Linked DNA regions of Homo sapiens: region 2 is linked to region 1. The links come from fine-mapping of genetic effects on gene expression. A gene starts in region 1. The other region holds a variant in brackets. All regions are shown on one strand. Distances are between the middles of the regions. Region 1 holds the start of SLC12A5-AS1 (SLC12A5 and MMP9 antisense RNA 1). Region 2 has its middle 8.0 kb from the start of ZNF335.

What was found. PIP is the estimated chance that this variant, and not a neighbour inherited with it, causes the effect. A credible set is the group of variants that fine-mapping cannot tell apart.
Region 2: its variant is the best candidate, but not a certain one, in a credible set for the expression of SLC12A5-AS1 in cerebral cortex (GTEx, PIP 0.51).

What each region holds. Positions count from the first base shown.
Region 1 is chr20:46,020,617-46,023,528 of GRCh38, reverse strand. SLC12A5-AS1 (SLC12A5 and MMP9 antisense RNA 1) reads left to right here and starts at 1,456. Exons shown (of 3, transcript NR_147699.1): 1 at 1,456-2,005. It also overlaps a transcript of SLC12A5 not described here. RefSeq lists silencers at 1,406-1,765, 1,786-1,945.
Region 2 is chr20:45,978,765-45,981,676 of GRCh38, reverse strand. No RefSeq gene overlaps it. Among named protein-coding and RNA genes, the nearest start is that of ZNF335, 8.0 kb to the right of the region's middle. The variant C/T (reference allele first, on the strand shown) is at 1,309.

The DNA.
Region 1 (2,912 bases):
CTAGGGAAGGACTGGAGGCAGGGAGGCCAGTGGAGAGGATGTGGTCGTGGCCATGTGAGGCTTGGAGCAGGGCGATGATGACAGAGGGGGGACCGATGCTGCCAGATTCAGGATAAGTTTCAGAGGTGAATGGCCAAGACGTGGGGATCAGTTGGATTTGCTGGAAAGAAAAAAGGAAGGGTTGAGAATGGCTCCAGAATTTCTTACTTTCAAATCTGGGAGGCTGGTAAGGTCATTCATGAAAATGAGAAAAGAGATTATGAGAAAGATGAAGAGTGGAAGGAGCCCAAGAAATCCAAGTGGCCACAACCAGGAGGCGTTCGGTTCCCGGGACTGGGGCCATTCGGAATTCCAGGCCTCAATTTGGTCATCTGTACAATGAGGAGGTCCGCCAGATAACCCCCTAAGGGTTACTCTAGGGGTTTCGGCGCTTGGGTTTGCTTCGGGGCGAGCTCACCTGCGGCTCGGCAGCGACCCCTGGCGGTCTGGGGAGGCTTCTCCTCCTCCTTCTCCTCCTCCTCCTCTTCCTCCTCCTCTTCCTCCTCCTCCTCTTCCTCCTCCTCCTCCTCCTCCTCCTCCTCCTCCCCTCGCTGGGGCCACTACAAGCCGATTCGCCTTGTTCCTTCCAGACCCGAGGGCCTCAGAGCCAGGGAGAGGACCCCTGATGAGTGCCCCCTGAGGGGAGACTGTGCACGCGCCCAGGATGCTACTTCTCCACCGAAGGCCAGAAGGATCTTTCCCCTCCCCTATACTCTGTGCCCTGCGTGTAACTTCCATTACAAGACCCTGCACAGGGCCCGCGAGGAAGACGCCCCCAACCCCGCCTGAGCTGGCTCCTCCCAACCCTTACGGAGCTCGAGCAGACAAGGAGCTAAGTGGGTCCCCAAGAGTCGGGATCAGCGACCCTACGGCATCCTCCCTGAATCTCGCTGCCCAGGATCCATACTAACTTCCCTGCCTCCCGTCTCCTTCCCGGGATCCCCAGTCGCTGTCCGCTAAGCCTCCAGGGAGCTAGAGGATTGGAGGATCCGCCAGGCACCGAGGACCCGCTGACCTGGCACCTGCCTCGGCAACCCTGACTCAGTTTTCCTCCCGCCCTCGACCCCACCCCCCTCCCAGGCCCCACTCCCATCCTCCTGGCCCAACTCATTCCCTACTAGTCCCGCCCTTTCCTGACCCCAAACCAACCTAGTCCCGCCGCCTCCCCTTTAGGGGCTCCTGACCATCCCCCTTCAACACACAGCCCCCTTTTTCCCTAGTTCCACCTCCTCACTCTGGTCCCGCTCCCTACTCGAGATGTCCCCGCCCCTTTAGTGCCCTACGGCCTACTCTCCACCTTGACCCCGGCCTTTCCATCACCAGACCCGCCCCCTTCGCCTCCGTCCAAACCCCTTCCCTGGCCCCACCCCTTTCCCTCGTGGCCACGCCCACCTCGCGTTTGGCCCCTCCCCCTCCACACTTTGCGTTCCGCGGCCCCGGCCCCTTGGTTTCCTAGTCCTGGCTCCATTCCCCTCTCAGGCCTAGGGCTGGGACCCCTCCCCGCCCCCGGTCTTGGCCCTGCCCCCTTCAACAGACGGTCCGCCCCGGCCCCTCCCCCTCGTCCCGCCCGGCCCTGGCAGGCCCCGCCCCCTGCGGCCTCTACCTTTGACGTCTTCCCCCGGGAGGTGGCGGGGGTCTGCGACCGAATGCCGGCGGGACTCTGGGTCAGGGCTTCTGGCGGGCCCTGCGGGGGGCAGCGAGGTGACCGTGAACCTGCGGCTCATGGCGCGGAAAGGAGCCAGGCGGCCGCGGCAAGGTCCGGGATCGCACAAGTGGCTGCAACCAGGCTCTAGGAGGGAGAAAGAGCGGATCCCCCAACCCCCTCCGCCCGCCCGCCCCCCGCGAGACGCGGCGCCGCGCAGGGTCCTAGTGCCCGCTGTGCGAAGGGTTCCTGAATCTGGCCACTTCGCTGGGAGGCCCTGGGCTCCCCAGTGCCACCCGAAGGGCCTGAGGAGGCCATCTGCAGGTGAGAGTCGTCCCTACAACGGGGGCACCTCTGTTAGGGTCTCCTAAACACCTGGGGCTCATTCATTCATTCATTCATTCATTCGGCACATGTCGATAGCGCTCCTGTGTTTCGGTCAATGGTGCGAGGGATACGTCGGTGGATGAGATCCACTGGCTTCTTGCCCTCAAGTGGCTTAAATTCTAATAAGGAGAAAAAGATTATAAGTGAGCAAATGCATAGATGAGATCATTTGAGATTGGATGTATGTTTAAAACTAGGGCCATGGGATAATGGGTAAGAGGGAGGACTACTTTAGGGGTGGCCTGAGAAGGCCTCCTAGAAGATGTGGTATTTGAGCTGAGACCTCACTGATGAGAAGGGCCAGCTATGCAAAGATCTAGGGGGAAGAGTTCTCTAGAAGAAGAAACAGCAAATGCAGAGCCTTGGAGTGAGAAGGAGTCCCGACTGTCCAAGAAACAGCAAGGCCATTGTGTCTGGAAGAGAGTGAGTGGAGAAGAGAGTGACTGGAGATGAGGGAGGAGAGAAGGGCAGATCATGTGGTCTTCTGAAGGCTTTGGGGAGGATCCTGGATTTTTTGAGCAGGGGAATGATGTGATCCAATTTATAATTTAACAGGATCATTCTGGCTGCTGGGCGAAGGTTCAACTAAAGAATGGCAAGAGTAGAAGCTGGAAATCTAATTAGGAGGCTCCTGCAGACCCCAAGCTGGGGGGTGATGACAGCCAGACTAGAGTGGTGGCAGTTGTCTGATTCCAGTTAGGTTTTGAAAGTGAAACCATCAGGACCCACTGATGGATCGGATGTGACACGTGACCATAAGAGTGAAGTCAAGGAGAAATCCTGGCAATTCACACACTGCTGGTGGGAGTGTAGTTAGGCAAAAACTACTTTGGGAAACTATTTG
Region 2 (2,912 bases), 42 kb after region 1:
ACCGTGGGAAGTCAACTTAAGGGACTCATTATCCCAAGTGGTGGTACAGTCTTAAGCTATAAATAGGTTTTTAAAAACAGGGTTAGCTAAACCCATAGACAGCAGTGACATGAAGAAAGCAGGTAGAGATGAACCCTCGGACCCACCTGCTGGCTGCCTACTCTCAACCCCGCTGCCCTTCCGGGGCATCTGGTGCAACATGAGGAGCACTGGACTGGGAGTCAGTAAGCCAGGGTTTGAATCCTACCTCTGCTGACGATCAAGCACATGACCTCAGACAGTCACTGCTCTGGGGCCTCAGGTTCCTCATCCGTAACATGGGAATGCAGAGAGCATCTAATATCTCTGGCTGTTGTGACTGTAGTTTAAAAATGCACATAGGGCCGGGCAAGGTAGCTCACATCTGTAATCCCAGCACTTTGGGAGGCTGAGGTGGGTGGATCACCTGAGGTCAGGAGACTAGCATGGCCAACACCGCAAAATCCCGTCTCTACTAAAAATACAAATTAGCCGGGCATGGTGGTGCGTGCCTGTAATCCCAGCTACTCGAAGGCTGAGGCAGGAGAATCGCCTGAGCCTGAGAGGCGGAGGCTGCAGTGAGCCGAGACTGCACCACTGCACTCCAGCCTGGGCGACAGAACGAGACTCCATCTTAAAAAAGAAAAAGACCAGCCTGGGCAACATGGTGAAACCCCACCTCTACCAAAAAAATATACAAAACTTTGCCAGGTGTGGTGGTGTGCACCTGTAGTCCCAGCTGCTCAGGAGGCTGAAGTAGGAGGATCACTTGAGCTTGGGAGGACTGGTTGCAGTGAGCCAGGGTCTGCCACTGCACCCCAGCCTGGGCAACAGAGCCAGATCCTGTCTCAAAATAAAAATAAAAATGCATACAAAACACTGAATGCATCCCCTGATACTTGGTAAGTACCCAGTAAACATTCACCCAGCCGGGGTAATATGGGGAAAACCCATCTCTACAAAAAATACAAAACAATTTAGCTGGGTGTAATGGCGCGTACCTGTAGTCCCAGCTGCCTGGGAGGCTGTGGTGGGAGGACTGTTTAAGCCTGGTAGGCAGTGGTTGCAGCGACCCATGTTTGCACCACTGCATTCCAGCCTGGGTAACAGAGTGAGACCCTGTCTCAAAGAAAAAACAAAAAAGCCAAAAACAAACAAACAAACAAACAAACAATCTGCTAGTGGCCGGGCGCAGTGGCTCGCTCCTGTAATCCTAGCACTTTGGGAGGCCGAGGTGGGCGGATCACGAGGTCAGGAGTTCGAGACCAGCCTGACCAACATGGTGAAACC[C/T]CGTCTCTACTAAAAATTCAAAAAAATTAGCTGGGCGTGGTGGCGCGTGCCTGTAATCCCAGCTACTTGGGAGGCTGAGGCAGGAGAATCACTTAAACCCGGGAGGCGGAGGTTGCAGTGAGCCGAGTTTACGCCACTGCACTCCAACCTGGGCGACAGAGCGATGCTCTGTCTCAAAAAAATAAATAAATTAATTAAAAACTGCTAGTGTGATTATTATCTACTGCAGGAGATCTGGCCTGGGCTCACAGCCCCTTCCATTACACCAGAAAATTTCTGTGATCTTGAGCAAGTCAAATCCCCTCTCTGGGCTTCAATTTCCTCATCTGTAAAATGGGAAAATAGTAACCACCAGGCCTGACTCAGGAGAAGACAAAATATCACCTAAGAGTCAAGCATTATGATGAGAAATGGTACAGCAATCTAAAAGTATGGAGTCTAGAGCCAGATTGCTTAGTTTTCTTTTTTTTAAATAAATGAAAAAATTTTTATTGAGTATTACTTTATACATGTAAATTAAAAGTGAATCTATATTAAGTTGACTATTCTACAATAAAAACCTATGCAATGGGAATAATCAAAGCTGTCTACACAATACTAATGTGGTCAATAAATTACCCAGATGTTTTTCCACAAATATTTGGATTACCTGAATTAGCTGATTTTTCCACAAAAGTTAAATTTGAGCTTTAATATGGTAGCAGCAGGATGCTGCTTAAGTTTAGAAGAAAAACATAAGAATAAAAACCCTGAATAGCATAACCAAATCTTCCAAGAAATAAGTTCACCAAAAAAGTAGCATACACCTATTTGGTATCCAGAGGAGGAAACAAAACAAAACACAGGCACTTAATCAACATCCACCAAGTGATCATCACTAACATTCTATTATTACCAGAGCAACTGTCAATACGTGAACCGTAGATTAGGACAGACTTACATATCTAAAAACAAACCAGTAATCAATAATATATACAGAAATACTAACTTGCAGTCACATTTAAATACCATCAACAGTTTGGTGTATCTGATATAGACTGAATTCATTTCATCACTGCTATAAATTCCTTAAAAGTGTTCTTTTCCTAATGTAACATTATCTTTAAAAAATGGTAAGATATTTCCCAATATGCATCAGTTCTTTCACTCACCCATTCAATAAATGTTGCAGCAAATTAAATAGAACCTATTAACTAGATCTAAAAACAATGGCTGAATAATTAACACAAAGAAGTACTTTTGAGTAAACTATTCAGATTAGACAGGCTAATGCTAACTAAGACTGCATTTTGTGCTACTGACATGCACTATATAGATCGTACACTACTAGATGGAAGGTTGGTCCACGTCCATTTATTTAAAGATTCTGTAACACCTATAATAGTATTTAATACAGCTCCCACACATAATATTCCTCTCACATAGACATAGTTATTTTTAGTGGGGATAAGGTATGACTTTAACATGCTATGAGATTCTAGCTAAGTAAAATAAAAACAATATGGGCTCAGGTTTTCTTAGGTAATATTAGTTCAAGTTTTTAAACTGGGAAACAACCAACTTCCATATATCCAGGAGAAACTTAGCATGGGGGGAGGTGCCTT